3 linked regions of the Homo sapiens genome follow. The protein of the gene in region 3 purifies or fractionates together with the protein of the main gene of each other region. This does not show direct contact. Each region holds a gene or a part of one and is shown on either strand. Other genes may lie near its edges.

The links. The genes of interacting proteins can lie anywhere in the genome.
Region 1: the proteins of NCBP3 (region 3) and THOC5 purify together in Homo sapiens (co-immunoprecipitation; 3 studies listed by BioGRID and IntAct, with this or other methods). This does not show direct contact.
Region 2: the proteins of NCBP3 (region 3) and THOC2 purify together in Homo sapiens (co-immunoprecipitation; 3 studies listed by BioGRID and IntAct, with this or other methods). This does not show direct contact.

Annotation. Positions count from the first base shown.
Region 1 is NC_000022.11:29,515,758-29,522,757, reverse strand, and holds part of THOC5 (THO complex subunit 5), read left to right. Parts: intron 1-1,658; coding exon 1,659-1,760; intron 1,761-2,653; coding exon 2,654-2,750; intron 2,751-3,637; coding exon 3,638-3,752; intron 3,753-5,391; coding exon 5,392-5,495; intron 5,496-5,641; coding exon 5,642-5,729; intron 5,730-7,000. UniProt on the Homo sapiens protein: Component of the THO subcomplex of the TREX complex which is thought to couple mRNA transcription, processing and nuclear export, and which specifically associates with spliced mRNA and not with unspliced pre-mRNA.
Region 2 is NC_000023.11:123,600,069-123,604,052, forward strand, and holds the end of THOC2 (THO complex subunit 2), read right to left. Parts: intron 3,681-3,984; exon of another isoform or gene 1,271-3,680; 3' UTR 501-1,270; downstream 1-500. UniProt on the Homo sapiens protein: Component of the THO subcomplex of the TREX complex which is thought to couple mRNA transcription, processing and nuclear export, and which specifically associates with spliced mRNA and not with unspliced pre-mRNA.
Region 3 is NC_000017.11:3,801,631-3,808,363, forward strand, and holds the end of NCBP3 (nuclear cap-binding protein subunit 3), read right to left. Parts: 3' UTR 528-6,733; downstream 1-527. UniProt on the Homo sapiens protein: Associates with NCBP1/CBP80 to form an alternative cap-binding complex (CBC) which plays a key role in mRNA export. NCBP3 serves as adapter protein linking the capped RNAs (m7GpppG-capped RNA) to NCBP1/CBP80.

The DNA.
Region 1 (7,000 bases), on a different chromosome or scaffold from region 3:
GTGCTGGGATTACAGGCGTGAGCCACCACGCCCGGCCACTAAGGTTTTTTTAATCCCTTACTTTTTATCAAAATTTTATAACAAAGATTTGACTGGTTGAGAAGTTTTTTTGTTTTGGTGTTATATTTTTATGACTATAAATAGCCTTTCCTTTTATGTTCATCATTTTTACCAAGTTCAGTTGTCTTAGCCATATGTTGCAGATATAAATTTTGCCAAGAAGGTGATTCCTTCATCAGGTTTTGTCAATTAATAACCTTCATCGTGGGCAGTTTTAGTTCTGTTTTATTTATTTACTAATAGATTGAATCAATCTATTAGTAATAGTCCCTAAACACTTGCTAAAAGACTGAAAAGTTTTATTTTATTTTATTTTATTTTATTTTATTTATTTTTTTGAGACAGAGTCTCGCTCTGTCACCCAGGCTAGAGTGCAGTGGTGCAATCTTGGCTTATTGCCAGCTCCGTCTCCCGGGTTCACACCATTCTCCTGCCTCAGCCTCCCAAGTAGCTGGGACTATAGGCGCCCGCCACCATGCCCAGCTAATTTTTTTTTTTTTTTTGTATTTTTAGCAGAGACGGGGTTTCACCGTGTTAGCCAGGATGGTCTCGATCTCCTGACCTCATGATCCGCCCGTCTCGGCCTCTCAAAGTGCTGGGATTACAGGCGTGAGCCACTGTGCCTGGCCTGAAATGTTTTATTTGTTTGGTAGTCAGTTCTCCATTTGAGGTGGTGAAGGGGGCAAAGACCTTGGGGAACAGGGATACTCAGTGAGACACAGTAGGGAAGAGCTGGAAGCCTCCACTGTCCTAGCATGGAGTTCCTGAAGGCATGCTGGGGCCAAAACGCAGGACCGGCACGTGCTGCCCAAGTTGCTCCTGACGTTATCCATGGAAAGATGAAGGAGAACCCCCTTTGGTTCAGGGAAAGAATGGGCCTTGTCATCCTTTGTGATAAAATTACTACATTACCCTCCCACATTATCTCTTTTTTGCTTGTCACATTTAATGACAAACTGTGCCCGAACCATCCCAGGTGGGTGGCAGTGGCGTCACTATTTCTCTCCGCTTGTAGCTGTGGGTCTCCAGTGTATGTGATTGTATCTTTTTCTGGGAACATACAGGGGGCCTTTTCCTGTGATGAGCATAAGATTTGGTCAAAGTGAGATAGACATAGCACCAAAGCTATACACTTGTTCTCTCTGTAGCAGAAAGGAGTCTGTTCTGCTTTTATGAAAATTGAAATTATTTCTACTGATGGTGTCATGGGACTTTGCTCCCCTGAGGTAAGGCCTTAGGCACCATATAAATCTTGAAGGGATGAGTTTTTTAAAAATTAATGATTAAGAGTACTAGTCTGTTTGATCAGACAATATAAAGCCACCTCTAGCACTTACTAGCAGTGTGATCTTGAATAAGCCATATCTTTTAAAGCCTTGAGTTTTTCCTCTATAAAATGGAAATGATAATCCTCCCTCATAGGGTTGTAAGGATGCAATGACCTCAAGCATATAAACGGTCTGGCCCACAGAAAGCCTTCAATAAATGGTGGCATTGGTCATCAGTGAGACGTGGCATTACCATCCCCAAATGCCCAAGCCTATGTTGAAGAAAGATGTTGGCTGCATTCTCACTGCTTACTGTTTTTCCTTTTCTAGTGACTTGCTGTCTCCTGACTCAGTCCTGAGTTGCTTGTATCCTGGGGATCATGGAAAGAAAACTCCGAATCCAGCCAATCAGTATCAGTTTGATAAAGTTGGGTGAGTCAGCAGTTTCCTCCTCTCCGAGCTCTCTACTTCTGAGTTTCTCTGGTGGCTCAAGCTAAATGCTGGAGACCTGTTAGGGCCAGAGGTGACCCAGAGGATAGGAAAGACCACAGGGTAGAAGGAAATGTTTGTTCTTTCTTGCTTACAAGGCAAAGGGAGATCACAAAAAGGGTGGAAGGATCAAAACTCGGAAACATGCTGGGTGTGGTGGCTCACGCCTGTAATCCCAGCACTTTGGAAGGCCAAAGCAGGTGGATTCCTTGAGCTCAGGAGTTCGATACCAGCCTGGGCAACATGGCAAAACCCTGTCTCTACAAGAAATACAAAAATTAGCCAGGCATGGTGGTGGGCATTTGTAGTCCCAGCTACTGGGGAGGTTGAGGTGGGAGAATTGCATGAGCCCAGGAGGTTGAGGCTGCAGTGAGCCATGGTCATGTCGCTGTACTCCAGCCTGGGGGCAACAGAGCCAGACCCTGTCTCAAAACAAAAACAAAAAGAAAAACAAAAAAAACCCTCTGGAAGCATAATAATACGTGATACAATAAAAATGTTTGACATTTTAATTATCCGAGGATTAATTTTTAAAAGATTTTCTAAATTGGTAGACCAATAAAGACATTAGTACACTGCCTTTGTATTTGATATTTGCTTATAAGTTGAAGGCTGCAAGAAGAAAAGGAAAAAGAGGAAAGTGAATGTGAGAGAGATGAAATTCACAGTAGGGAACTGACAAAGTTGAAGGGCTTTGCCAGCAGCCTGGCTGTGAACATGGCCAAACCTGCAGGACTGGATGGTTTGTGGGGCATGGGAGGGTGGGAGGAGGCTGTATCCTGGGACCACAGCAGAAATGACTTACAGCACAATTTTATTTATCTTCTTTTCTGCAGCATCCTGACTTTGAGCGACTATGTACTTGAGCTAGGTCACCCCTATTTGTGGGTGCAGAAGCTGGGTGGCCTCCACTTCCCCAAAGAGCAGCCCCAGGTCTGTACACTGATCTCATCTAGTTGGCTGAGGAGCTTACCTCTTCTCTTCCTGTATAGACTCTAGAAAGGCCAGGCCAGGTGCGGTGGCTCATGCCTATAATCCTTGTACTTTGGGAGGCTGAGGCAGGTGGATCACCTGAGGTCAGGAGTTTGAGACCAGCCTGGCCAACATGATGAAACCCCATCTCTACTAAAAATACAAAAAATTAGCTGGGTGTGGTGGCACGTTCCTATAATCCCAGCTATTCAGGAGGCTGAGGCAGGAGAATCACTTGAACCAGGGAGGCAGAGGTTGCGGTGAGCTGAGATCATGCCACTGCACTCCAGCCTGGGCAACAAGAGCAAAACTCCGTCTCAAAAAAAAAAAAAAAGGCCTGTCATGGCCTTTGGAGTTTTGAACTGGCAGAATGTGTCCCCTCAGGGCTGTGACCTGTCTTCTATCCACTCAGGACACTAAAATGTCTTAGACTTACAAGAGTTTACGTACCTTTTGCATTTTCTCTGAGCCTAGTAGCCTTTTAGACCCAGGCAACTTGAGTCCTTGCTCTGGGACTCATGTCTGCAGGCTCTGCTGCCCTTGTTCTTGTGTGCAAGTACCAAATATGAGGCATGAGCAGAAATCCAGGGGGCCTGGCCCCTTAGCAGAAGCCTGCCTTTCCTCAGGAGTTGGACACAGCTTCTCAAGAACGCAGCATATTGTGTTGTTTCTGCCAGGACTCAGCGTCTGGCCTGTCATAGCAGATAAACCTTGCCATGTCTAAAGGGTACCCATCTTGGGGCATGGATAATCCAGGGTGCCGCAGACAGGCAGGTCCCAGGAGAGAGATGGTGCCCGGAGGAAGGGATGGGGGAGCACACGTGTATGTGTCTCATTGTCACTCACAGCAAACAGTGATTGCTGACCACTCGCTGAGCGCCAGCCACATGGAGACCACCATGAAACTTCTGAAGACCAGGGTGCAGTCCCGCCTGGCCCTCCACAAACAGTTTGCATCCCTAGGTAAGCTGATGATGGGGCAGTGGTTTAAGAGTCACTCAGACAACACACGGACAACAACAACTTAGCCTTTCACTCAAAACTTGAATCCTGATGACAAATACAAGACCTGGATTCCTGGCTTTACGGAGTGGGCATCTTGGCAGAGCCACTGGGGAGAGCTCCAGGCCTGTCCAGGCAGAGGACCGAGCTCCCCCTTAGAGCCATCAGTGCTGTCCTGCCTCACAGAGGAGGCCCAGAGCCATTGGGTGGCACAAGTTTGTGGACTGGTCGGGGCAGTTCATCCTAGGTCATGCATTGCAGATTTTGATGTGCATTCGACACATATTTAGTGAGATCCTGATTCATGCCAGGCACTGAGCATAGTGCTGGGGGAAGAACTGAGCACAGTGAACCCCTGCCCCTGGCTCTGTGGCTCACAGTCAGCTTTTTGAATATAGCTATCCAGGGAGCAACTCGCATATCCCTTCCCCAAGGCCTACTGACCTCGTGTTCCCCAGGGTGAGGCTGAGCCTATGTTTTCTTCTAAGCTCCCAAGTGATAATGATGAGCCACTGACTTAGGTGGTGGCATTTGGGGGCTTCTTTTAGTTTATTCACTCAGTAAGTGGTTGTCAAATGCTTACCATGTGGCAGGGGGATGGGGTCAAGATTTTTCTGACCTAAAAGAGTCTCTGGGACAGGCGCAGTGGCTCTTGCCTGTAATCACAGCACTTTGGGAGGCCAAGGCAGACAGATCACTTGAGGTCAGGAGTTCAAGACCAGCCTGCCAACATGGTGAAACTCCGTCTCTACTAAAAATACAAAAATTAGCTGGGCATGGTGGTGTGCACTTGTATTCCCAGCTACTCAGGAGGCTGAAGCAGGAGAATTGCTTGAACCTGAGAGGCGGAAGTTGCAGTGAGCTGAGATCGCATCACTGTATTCCAGCCTGGGCAACAAAGCGAGACTCCATCTCAAAATAAAAAGTAAAAAATAAAAAAGAGTCTCTGTCAGGAAAGGCATTGGGTTTCCAGGACACATCTGGAGACCACTCCCCACCAGTTCTTAGACTCCACATGGCTGCCGATCTCTCCAGAGCACTGATGTTTGTCCATCGGGCCGTGCTCCCCATCAGCACTGCTGAGTTTGTTTTGTCCCAAGGTAGGGAACTTGTCATTCTGGACAGTACTTACTGTGTTGGCATATTTGCTTATTTAAATGCCAGCAGGAATTTACCCTGGAGCAGTTATCTGGCTCTTCTCCCTGACACACAACACTTCAGTTGTTTCCTCCATCAAGGTCAGCTATGAAAACACAGGCCTCTATGCTATTTGATCTAATTAACAGTCACTGCTGCAGGGGCACCCTCCCTAGTTCTGACTGTAAGGGTTTTTCTTTGGCAGGCTATCATTTGCATTAAAGAGAAAGCACCATAAGTGCTGGCACTGGATCTGGCCACAAGCACATAGCACTGGGTGAAGGTCAGGTTGACATGCTTGCATTCCTGGCACGTGTTGACCTGGGTACTTCCTGAGTACCAGGTATACCAGGATAGCTGGCCGGGCCATCTGAGCCCTTCAGAGAGCCCCAGGAGGATGCTAGTTACCCATCTGTGGCACCTGATTTCTACCTGTGACGTCATCTGTCTTGTTCTCTTTTAGAACATGGCATTGTGCCAGTTACCAGTGATTGCCAGTACCTCTTCCCTGCCAAGGTTGTCTCTCGCCTGGTGAAATGGGTGACAGTTGCCCATGAGGATTACATGGTAGGTGAAGGAGTGACAAGTTACCCTTACTGTCCTGAGGATTGCAGGACCATGTCACCTTTCAGCTCCTGCCACCTCACTGGAAGAGCAGGGGGTTTAACCAGAGGAGCCAGCAGTTCACCTCTTGTCTGTGGTACCTCTTCTAGGAGCTGCACTTCACCAAAGACATTGTGGATGCGGGACTGGCTGGGGACACCAATCTCTACTACATGGCGCTCATCGAAAGGGGCACAGGTAATTGCTCTGCTGATTACAGGGGTTCTAGACAAAGGGCGCTGCCAAGAATCAAACACTCTCCGGGGCTGCCCAAAGCAGAAGATCCTGGAGTCCTGCAAGGACTTAACAGATAATAATGATCGTGAGAGCCTGTTCAGCAAGGACTCATTCTGCAACACAGTCACACACACGCTGTGTATCACTGAACCCTCACTGCAGTCCTAGGGGTGGTGCTTTCATTTCTATTTTACATGGGAGGAAATTCAGGCTTAGTTGCAAGCCCAGTCTGAGCGCTGAGCCTGAGCTCTTTGCTCCTTCCTTCACCGCTTTCTAGTACCGGACATCTCCTCCTTCTCCCTCTTCATAACAGGGCTGAGGTGTCACCCTCAGGTTGTAAAGGGCAGGGCCACAGGGCCTCGCTCCCTCTTCTGCAGTCCCTGCACTCACTTTAGAGGCATTGAAAGCTCTGATTCTTCATACCTCTTCTGGCATCTGACTCTGCCAGGGCTCCCTGCTGAAGTCCTGGGATGTTGTGTTTGGGCCGTTGTGCTGTTGTCCCACCCAAGCCGCAGCAAGCCTGGCACTGCCCGTGGGATCTGACACCCTCAAGACTTGGTGCTGAGCTGAGGAAGTTGTCTGTAGTTCTAAGACAGTTCCAGAACTGTAAGGAAAGGCTGAACTCTTTGGTATCAGAGTTTCTGTCCTCACTACCCCACTTTCTTCTCTTTCTATTCTTCATGTCTTTTAAAAAAAAAATTCTGAAGAAACTGAATATTTCAGATACAGTTGAGGCCTCCCTATCCCACTTTATTCCCTTTCTCCTAATAAGTGACCACTATTTGGATTTTATGCATTTGCTTTCCATCCTTTCCCCGCTACACCCTTTTTTTTTTTTTTTTCAGTAGAGATAAGGTCTTGCTTTGTCGCCCAGGCTGGAGTGCAGTGGCACGATCATAGCTCACTGCAATCTTGAACTCCTGGACTCAAGCAATCCTTCTTCCACCTTAGCTCCCTGAGTAGCTGCGACTACAGGTATGCTACCATGCTCAGCTAAGATTTTTTGTTTTTGTTTTTGTTTTTTTGTAGAGGCATGTTCTTACTATGTTGCCAAGCCTGGTCTCAAACTCCTGGCCTTTCTTCCAAAGTGCTGGGATTGTAGGCATCAGCCATCATGCCTGGCCTCTCCCCTTTCAAAATTTAATTTAACTTATTTTTTGAGACAGGGTCTTGCTCTGTTGCCTAGACTGGAGTACAGTGGCTCAGTCATGGCTCACTGCAGCCTCAACTGC
Region 2 (3,984 bases), on a different chromosome or scaffold from region 3:
CATAGTTATTTTCTCAAAGTCAAAAATCACTCTAACAAAACATCTATTTTTATGTCAGGCACATTATAAGCACTCAACAGTCACTGAATATATCACCCTCCCATAAATATTCTGCTCATCGATTTTTGCAAATTACAATTACCTGAAAAGAGACATCAAGATTTATACCCTTTTGCCAATTCATTTAAAATATGCTCAGTAATTCTCAATTCTTTAAAAAGTTATATCCTTTTTGTCATTCTCTGAAAATTTTAATTTGCATAGGTATCGTTTCCAAGGAACTGAAGACTAAATGGAAAAATCCAGGCATGCTACCAAGTCCACTGTTTACTCCAACTACAGAGGTAATCAAACAGGATATTTTCCTATTATTGGATGATATGTCACTGGAAAATAATGTAGCCCATGGAATAAGAACTGAGAAGGGCTAGGAACCTTAATGAATTATCTTTGCTAAGTTATTCTGAATAAGCAACAATATACACAATAATATACAACCATTTGAGAAAACTATTGTTTATTTAGAAAAAAGGTTACACTGGTAGAATTCGGCAGATAAAAAAATTCTCTTTTAAAAATGTCACTGTGAAACTTTTCCAGATGAAAGTTCAGCAATACAAAGCTCCTACAGCTGTAGAATTAAAACAATTATGTTTTGATCCCCCCGCCGCCAAGATTTGTCTAACATAATTACAAGAAAAAATGGCAAGGGACAAGTGATCGCTGGTACCTTTTTCTTTTTTAAACACGTTTAATGTTGTACATGTACTATATAAAATGATTCCTAAGCATTTCATAAGACAATGCTCCCACTGCTTTTAGTGACTAATATTAAGAACAAGCCAAATAATAAATTAAAACAGTTTTAAAATGAGGTAAAATCAAAAGGGTTCAACAATTGTTTATTTTCAGTTTCAAACAATAAAAAGGAAGCATTTCAGAATGGAAATAAAAACTGAACCCAGGCAATATTTAGTTAATCTAAAGTAAAACTCTGTACACAGGTAACCTTATGCAGCACATTGTGCTAAAAGTATGGAACAGTTAACACTTTCAGCCATTACTGAAAATAAACATGTAGAAACTAAGCAACAAGTTAAAATACAGTAATGCACAACTTAACAATTTTAAGTTTTCCACATGGAGCAATAAAGCAGGTAACTGAATAATTTAAGGAGATGCAAATGGCCCTCTTCATTCTTAATTCTCGGCAATTTACTCAGGAAAATAAATTTCTGGTCGCAGCCGAACAGTTCCAGTCCGATCTCACCTGAAAGAAACAAAGTGATTATATTGATAGAGAAGAAGGAAGGAAGGAAGGAAAGGAGGGAGTAGGGGAGGGAGGCTTAGTCAAAGGAGGTAGGAGAAAAGGAAGGGAGAAGGAGAGAAGGAGAATGAAAGGAGGAGGGAGGGAAGAAGGGAGGGAGGGAGGGAGGGGAGAAGAAAGGAAGAAGAAGAGAAGGAAGGAGAGGAAAAGGTAAGGAGGGAGGAAGATTTAAGAAAGAACAAGAAGTTAATGAGTTCCATCGGTAACAAAGACTTGAGTCCCCAGAAAAGGATGAAATATTTGTGTGTTTCTTTTTGTCCATTCTTAGAATCCATTAAAGATAAACACACTAATGATGACTTAAAAAAAAAATTGAACATTGTGTGCGTGTGGGAGAGAGGGGTGGGGGTAGGGAGAAAAAAATGGAGCAACAAGTAAAACATTCCACAACGGCAAGCAATAGCTTATTAAATAGAAAATGTAGCAAAGAAAAGTAACCTATTTTACATGATCAACAAAAAAAGGAAAATGACATCACATTTTTCACAAGGACACAATTTTAATAGTAACTTATATTAAGATGCAGTGTCTGCTAAATTATAAAAATTGCTTTAAAAATATATTGACTTAATTATACTCATTTCCTTTCCTTTATGTATTGACATTTTTCAAATACTTCATATTGAAATAATTTCAAAACATGATTATTACAACATGTGGCAAATATCTTCACATCTGCCTTCATTCAAATTTTAAGCTAATGCTTAATGCATTAAACTTTATTGATGAAAATACTACATTCACATATTTCTTAAAACCAGGGCTAGAAGGGTCCTTAGAAAATAATCACTTACATGAAATGCTGACAAATAATTTACATACCATTTCGACACAGCATTCTGTTCACACCATGTATAATCTTGATATTATCAATAACTGTGGATACATTTAATGTTGAACTTACAATTTAATACTTAAAAGCCATTGTTCCTGTCCATTAATTGCTGAATGGATAAATAAAATGTGGTACACACTCATACAATGAAACATCATTTAGCCATAAAAAGGAATGCAGTACTGATACATGCCACAACATGGATGAGCCTTGAGAACATGATGCTAAGTGAAAGCCAAACACAAAAGGCCACAAATTATTGCATAATTCCATTTAAATGAAATGTCCAAAACAGGCAAAATCACAGAGACAGAAAGTACATTACTGGTTTCCAGGGGCCGAGGAAGGGAAGAACTGGGAGTGACTGCTAATAGGCATGGAGTTTCTTTTTGGGGTGACAGAAATGCTCTGGAATTAGACAGCGGTGATGCTTGCACAACATAGTGGATATACTAAAAACCATTGAATTGTACACTTTAAAAATGGCAAGTTTGAGGCCAGGCGTCATGGCTCACGCTTATAATCCCAACACTTTGGGAGGCCGAGGCAGGTGGATCACCAGGTCAGGAGATCGAGACCATCCTGGCTAACACGGTGAAACCCCTATCTCTACTAAAAATACAAAAATTAGCCAGGCGTGGTGGTGCACGCCTGTAGTCCCAGCTACTCAGGAGGCTGAGGAAGGAGAATTGCTTGAACCCAGGAGGCGGAGGTCACAGTGAGCCGAGATCGCGCCACTGCACTCCAGCCTGGGAGACAACAGCGAGACTTGGTCTCCAAAAGAAAAAAAAAAAAGTGAAAGGTAAATTTGATGTTATATGAATTTTATCTCAATTGTTTAAATTGCAAAAAAAAAAAAAGTCAATGTTCCAATTAAGAGCATCATGGTATCACAGTATGGCCATTAGGAGAATAAGAAATGGGTTCTCAATCATAAAGGTGCCACGTTACAAGAGGCAAGGGAAATTTTGGTGACACATTTAAGGTCACATTAAAGGATAAAATTGCTGTTGCTGTTAAAACACGTCAAGAACGTCTTCCCCAGGAACTGAAATTAAAATTTTTACTAGAAGCCAAAATCCTCAAGCAATATAATCATCCCAGTAATGTCAAAAGTATAGGAGTTCACACACAAAGACGGCCTATCTACGTCATTAAGGAACTGGTTCCTGGAGGCGATTTCCTCTCCTTTCAGAGAAAGAAGAATGAACTAAAACTCAGTGAAATTTTCATTAGATGCTGATTCTGGATGGTGTATCTCGAGTAAAAAATGTATACACAGGGACCTTGCTGTAAGAAACTGCCTGGAGGTGAAAATAATGTTCTGAAAATCAGTGACTTTGGAATGTCTCGTCAAGAGGATGGTGGTGTGTACTCATCTTCTGACTTAAAGCAGATTCCCATTAAATGGACAGCACCAGAAGCTCTTAATTATGGGAGATATCATTCTGAGAGTGACGCACGGAGCTTTGGCATCCTCCTCTGGGAGACTTTCGGCTTAGGGGGTCTGTCCATAGCCTGGAATGACAAATCAGCAACCACAAGAGCAAGTGGAAAGAAGATACTGGATGTCAGTCTCTTGGCAGTGTCCACAGAGTATTTTAATAAAATAATGCTGAGGTGTTAGGATTACAAACTTGAAAACTGCCCCCAAGTTTACTGAACTTCAGAAAGAGCTAGCTGTCATCAAGAAGAAAGTTGCATAGTGATGAAGCAGTGCCAAACTCAGCCTTCAGGACTCTATTTTCAGCAAAGCAGTATTTTTCTTCTTATTAACATTTATACCACATTACCTGCAACATTCTCCTAAGTGTTTTATTAA
Region 3 (6,733 bases):
CCCCCTCCCATAGGAAGTGCCTCCCCAGCCAAAAACTGGGCTCTTGTACCAGCCCATGCACTCAAGGCCCTGGGGTTCTGGAGGGCCAGGTGAGTGGAAAGACCCAACGCACTGAGTGAAATCACTGCCTCGATTCAACTTCGGCTGCGTTCATTCTCTTTAAAACCAGGACAGCAACCTGACGTGGAAACTGACTGAACAGGACTCTGAGTTACCAGAATAACAGAAGTAAAATTCTATACATCTTCCAGCATACCTGTGATGCATCCCAGCATTCCACAGAACACGCCGTTGACAGCTGGCAGTCGTGTTTAAGTGCTGATCTGAGATCTGTACTGTGTGACCAAGTCTGTGACACAGAAGGAACTCTCCTGCACCCCTGCTCCCCAGGCTGCTGGAAGTGCAGAGTGGCGCCGTCAAACAGAACTCTGCGCGGGGATGGAACTGCTCTAGGTCGACGCTGTCCAGGATGGTACTCATGAGCCACATATGGTACTAAACCCTTAAAATGCCACTAGAACAACTGATGAACTGAATTTTGTATATTTTATTTAATTTTAATTAAACGTAAAAAGGCAGGACATTCCAAGGCTCTCTAACACGAGTGTCTGCAGCCCCATTCGCTTTGAGATGTGAATGTGTTAACCCAGGGTGGACAATGGTGTTGACTTCATTACTAGATAAAAATCCATGTTATTTTGTTTCTCGCATTGAAAGGCTGCTTGGCTAAGGTTCTGTGAAGATCCGATGACATTTCCAACACTTTGCCTTGTCTGCTTTGCTCTGACAAAGTGCTTATGACTACTAGATCTTGCTCGGTTATGTGAGATTACAATTCACCGGTTTCCATCCTGTATGAAACAGAAGTTAAACAGTTGTAAAAGCAAAATTCCAGGTCTGGTGGTTTTCCTGCCAGGTCATGATGAAACCATCCTACTTCTGTTGAACCTCGTCCCAGGCAGGATCGGGGCCTGCGGCCTACAGCCTGTCTTCCCAGCGCTCCAGGGCTCGTGACCCTCCTCCTCCCCTCACTTCATTCTGCGCTCCAAGGGCACTGGGGAGAGTCACAGTGGTCTCCTCTCCCCCGCATTGGCCTAAAGCAGGAAGAGAGCAGCCCAGTCACTGAGCAGATCCCTGCTAGGGCAGGGCTAGAACCCAGACTGCAGCTCACTCGAGATTCCTGAGAGAAGACTTTGTGTTTGGAGTGTGAACGTCAGGGTGCCTCGGGAAGCCAGGGAAAGCTGATGACTGGGTGCTGGACAGGGAGCAGGGCCACTTCTGTACCTCTGCACACTTCTAGAATGCGGACTCATCCTGCATCCATCCAGTATGTATTTATCCAAGCGTCAGTGCCTCTAGTCATGAGACACACAGGGGTCCGTAAAGCCCACCTGGCGGTAGCTGCTTTCCCCACAAACCCAAACTACATCCCCAAGGTCAGGGCCAGGCTCTGTTGAGTAATGCTCCCCATCACAGCACGCAGCACAAGGCTGGCTGTTTGACAAATACACACATAACCAAAAGACATGTGAATGTGGTTTCCCAACTCACTTTAAACAAATATTCCGGGACCAACTTCAAGGACGTTCTACAACAGAAACTGGACTGTACTCTTCACAAACATCAATGTCATGAAAGACAGAAAGGCTGAGGACCTGCTCCAAACGAAAGGAGGCTGCAGAGAGGACAACTAAAGGCAGCGCTTGATCCTGGATTGGATCCTGGACCAGAAAAACAACGGCTTTCAAAATCATTATTGGGACAGTTGGCAAATTTGAAACAGGAACTACAAATTAGCAACTCCTGGGCTGATCAGAGAATATTACACATTTCCTGAATTTGAGAACTGTACCATGGGCATGTGAGAGGCTGTCCCTGTTCTTGGGAAATGTTCACTAAAACATCTTACGGATAAACGAGCATGATGTATACAAATAATCCTCAAATGGTTCATGGTTCAGAGAGGATAGGAAGAAACAGGGGTGAGGGAGAAGAGGAGGGAACGAATGAAAGAGAAAATGTGGCAAAATGTTCTTTGTTGTACCCTTCAAACTGCTGTGATTTTGAAATTATTTCAAAATAAAGTTTTAAATATTTTAAAAAATTTTTTTCTTTCTCCCCTTGATACCAGGAAGAATAAAGTTTTTAAAAAATGGGCAGGTGGGCCAGGCGCGGTGGCTCACGCCTGTAATCCCAGCACTTTGGGAGGCCGAGGCGGGCGGATCACAAAGTCAGGAGATCGAGACCATCCTGGCTAACACGGTGAAACCCGGTCTCTACTAAAAATACAAAAAAAATTAGCCAGGCGTGGTGGCGGGTGCCTGTAGTCCCAGCTACTCAGGAGGGTGAGGCAGGAGAATGGCGTGAACCCAGGAGGCGGAGCTCGCAGTGGGCGGAGATCATGCCACTGCACTCCACTTGGGTGACAGAGCGAGACTCCGTCTCAGAAAAAGTGGCCAGGTGCACTTGTAGTCACAGTTACTTAAGAGGTTCAAGCTACTTGGGAAAGCTTGAGCCCAGGAGTTTGAGTCCAATCTAGACAACATAGTATGAACCTGTCTCTTTAAAAAAAAGTTGCAAAATGTTCATGGATGGAGGAGACGTGCTCGGCGTGAGGTGAAAGGGCTGCCTGTGGGTCGGGCGTGGTAGCTGACACCTGTAATCCCAGCACTTTGGGAAGCCGAGGTAGGCGGATCGCCTGAGTTCAGGAGTTTGAGACCAGCCTGGGCAACATGGTGAAACCCTGTCTTTACTAAAAACACAAAAAATTAGCCAGGCGTGGCAGCGTGTGCCTGTAGCCCCAGCTTCGGGAGGCTATGGTGGGAGAATTGCTTGAACCTGGGAGGCGGAGGGTGCAGTGAGCCGAGACTGCGCCATTGCACTCCAGCCTGGGCGACAAGAGCAAGACTTCATCTCCAAAAAAAACAGAAAGGGCTGCCTGCTGTCTTCAGAGTGAGTCAAAAGCACTGAGGCACAGCCTTCAGACACAGGAAATGGTTCTATTCTCCCACTTGCCTTCTGACTCTTAGGAAGCCAGAAAGAGTGACGGCATTGCTGAGACCAGAGCCCAGGGCTGCAGAGCAGTGGTACTCACGACCTTTGAACACTCGGTAGGAGTGCCCTGCTCAGTGCCAAGGCCTCACATGCGAGCCCTCATCTGAGCCTCTCAGCCACCTACAAGGTCAACCCGATTTCTCAGATAAGGATGCTGCCTCTGAGAGGCCACATAGCTAGTAAGGAGCAGAGCTGGGACTCCAAACAGGCCTGTTTCCTCCAGAATCAGGACTCTGAACCACCACAAACTCTCCTGCCTTCAGCTCTTTTGGTGTGTAGACTTTTTTTATTTTTGTTTTTGAGATGGAGTCTTGCTCTTTCATCCAGACTGGAGTGCAGTGGCACAATCTCAGCTTACTGCAACCTCTGCCTCCTGGGTTCAAGCGATTCTCCTGCCTCAGCCTCCCGAGTAGCTGGGACTACAGGTGCCCGCCACCACACCCGGCTAATTTTTGTATTTTTAGTAGAGACGGGGTTTCACCATGTTGGCCAGGCTGGTCTCGAACTCCTGACATCAGGTGATCCCCGCCTCGGCCTCCCAAAGTGCTGAGACTACAGGTGTGAGCCACGTGCCCAGCTAGGTGGTGTGTAAACTTTAAAAAAGCAGAGATTTCATCCCACAAATGCAGACTGGGATCTCCACATGACCAGGTGCTGTGGACTGAACTGTAAATGTCCTCCAAATTCATATGTTGAAGCCCTAACCCCCAATGTGGCTCTTCTTGGACATATGGCTTTTAGGAAGTAATTAAGGTTAGATGAGGTCATAATCCAGCAAGATTGGTGGCCTTACAAGAGCCATGTGCAGGCACCAAGAAAAGCCTACGTGAATAAGACAGCAAGAGGGTGCTCACCATGTTGGCATCCTCCGGCCTCAGATCTGTGGGGGACTGCGGGGGTGATGGGACAGGGAGAGAACAAGGAGTGGATTTTCTTGTCCTTTCTAAGGAAGGGGCTGGGAGGGCGAGGGCTGCACTGGGTGCTGGGACCAAGGGTCCAGGGGCTTGGATCTCTTGTTTACAAACCCCTACTTCTTTCCTGCTATCTAGCCCACACCCCTGATGCTCCCCGGAAAGGAGAGCAAGGATCCTTGAACACGCGTTAGCACTAGAAGGAAACTGGAGCTCACCCCAGTTGAGCCCTCCATTTGACAGACAGGGAAGCTGAGGCCCAGGGAGGTGAGGGGACTTGCTCAGTCTTTCCAATTGAGTATGTGGGGCAGAAGGAGTCCCCAGAGCCCCGGCCCCAGCCACCATCCTATTTGACTTTCCCCAACAGGCATTCTACCTCAGCTAAAGATGCTGCCTGCCTCTCACAGGCCCTGAGGAGAAGATGGCCACATCACAGGATCGAACACTACCACAAAACTCCTAGGAAGGGACAGGAAGGTGAGAATCCTTTCTTTTTTTTTTGAGACGGAGTCTCGCTCTGTCGCCCAGGCTGGAGCGCAGTGGCGCGATCTCACCTCACTGCAACCTCTGCCTCCCGGGTTCAAGTAATTCTCCTGTCTCAGCCTCCCAAGTAGCTGGGACTACAGGTACCCACCACCACGCCCAGCTAATTTTTGTATTTCTAGTAGAGACGGGGTTCCAACATGTTGGCCAGGCTGCTCTTGAACTCCTGACCTCAGGTGATCCACCCGCCTCGGCCTCCCAAAGTGCTGGGATTACAGGCGTGAGCCACCAAGCCCGGCCTGAGAATTCTCTTCTGTCAATGGTGTGGGCCTCTCGACCTCACTAACCTATATTGGCCCAGAGGTGATGGTGACAATTTGAGATAACACAAAGTCTCAACTATTTACGAACCTGGTCATCCAGAGAGGGCCCCGGAATTGCTCAAATGAACAGTAAGAATCCTGAGGCAGGGTACTGACCTTGGTAGGTGAAATACCGCCTATACTCTCAAGTTTTATGGATAGTGCAGCCAAATTCCACTCGGATGCCTCACAACTACTTAAAATTGGCTTTTTGAAGCAGCATTTCCCTAACTACTCCCAGGAACAAAGTTCTGTGAAATGTTCATAGAGCTTCATTGAAAAAAAAAAAAAAAAAAAAGCTACAATATTTTTCTTCTAAGATTTATTTTATAAACATGTAAGAAAAGTTGTAGATATTTATTGTGGGTCTGGTTATGCAAGAACAATCTTCCTGGACACAGTGTGCGATTCTCAGTATCAAAAGCATTCTCTTCTTTCAGTTCGTAAAAGAAAAACATGGTTTAACTTCTAATTTACTGCTTATTATAAGGTTTAAAAGCAATTACTGTACTTATGTATCGAACTTATTTGTGTAGCAACTAATTCATCTGTGAAGCCATGGTTTGCTGTGGCTTCACAGTAAATTTTGACTTAAGTCTAAAGCGTGTGTTAGCATCTCACCGTAACTTAATGCTTCGAGTGAGAAGTTTGAGGAATGCTGCTTTAGGCAAAAGAGCCACTGGAGGAATGAGCTCTGCTCTTTTCACCTGCTCTGGACTGCTCTCACTTTCCTCACCGACAGGACCACAGGCTTAAGAACTGGCTCAGCAGTCCTTCTTTAGGGTCTAGCGCCTGCCTACCAGCTTCCTCTACTTCTATCCCGGGACAGATGAATGCTTTTCTAAAAAATATTTTGGACCATCTGCATGATTCCCTAGCAAATGCTTTAGAGAGCTGGTAAGCTTCAGCTCCGACATGGCCAGATCATCAAAATTTGAAGTTTACTCAGGTCTATTTAATGAGATTTTTTTTTCTTATACAACCATATGCACTTCTGAATAATCTTCCCTTTTTCGAATCTGGGGCTTTCATCTGGAATTAGACTAACCTGCAGACAGTGATGCCAGAACTGGGCTGGGTTACCATAATTCATTCATTTACCAAACACTTTCGAAGCACTACTTACTCTGGGCTGGCCTGATGAAAGGATACAGAGATAACACCACAAAGAAACTTGCTCATTAGGAGCTTGCTTACTGGCTAGAAAGGAAAATACAACATGAAAATAAAGCATTGTACGTACATGGCAGAAAAATGACTAGCCTGCCAGAGGGCCCCAGAGCCTCAGAGGATGGAGCCACTCCTGAGGCTGGAGGGTTTACAAACTCATCCCATCTTTACAGAAGACCTGCTAGATGCCAGGCATGCTGGCAGGCACAGGGGAAAGCCCACTCAACAAGCAGACACGGTCCCTGCTCTCACGGAGCTTACAGTCTAGCAAGACAAACTAGGAACAAGAAATTACAGTCCAGTGTAGAGGTGTGCAGGGTTGTGGGGTACAGTGATTTGGCATTATACACACATTTCGCTTAAACACAATGGTATTTGTCTGAAAAAGATTTAAAAAAAGAAAAACAAATCAGTTGTTTGGGCCATTCCGCTGGCCCCTCCTTCACTCCATGAGCATAGACAAGAGGGCGGGCCCGGGCAAGCTCATGCCTCTGCTGCACCTGCGGCCTGCCTCAGTTCCCAAGCTCCCCAAAAGTGATCTTCTCGCCTAAATGTGGTTCTAACACCCCAAAACAAGTGATTTTTGCACAACACAGCCCTAACTGCAGGCCAATCACTTCACCTGGTACTCAACCAAACAGTAATGTGTTCCCACATGGGCAAGAAATGACTACATGGGACCTCAAGATGTTGGTCTTCAATAGGGCACCTTCCTTAGATTTCTAAGAGGAATTTTAATTACACTCCATTTTT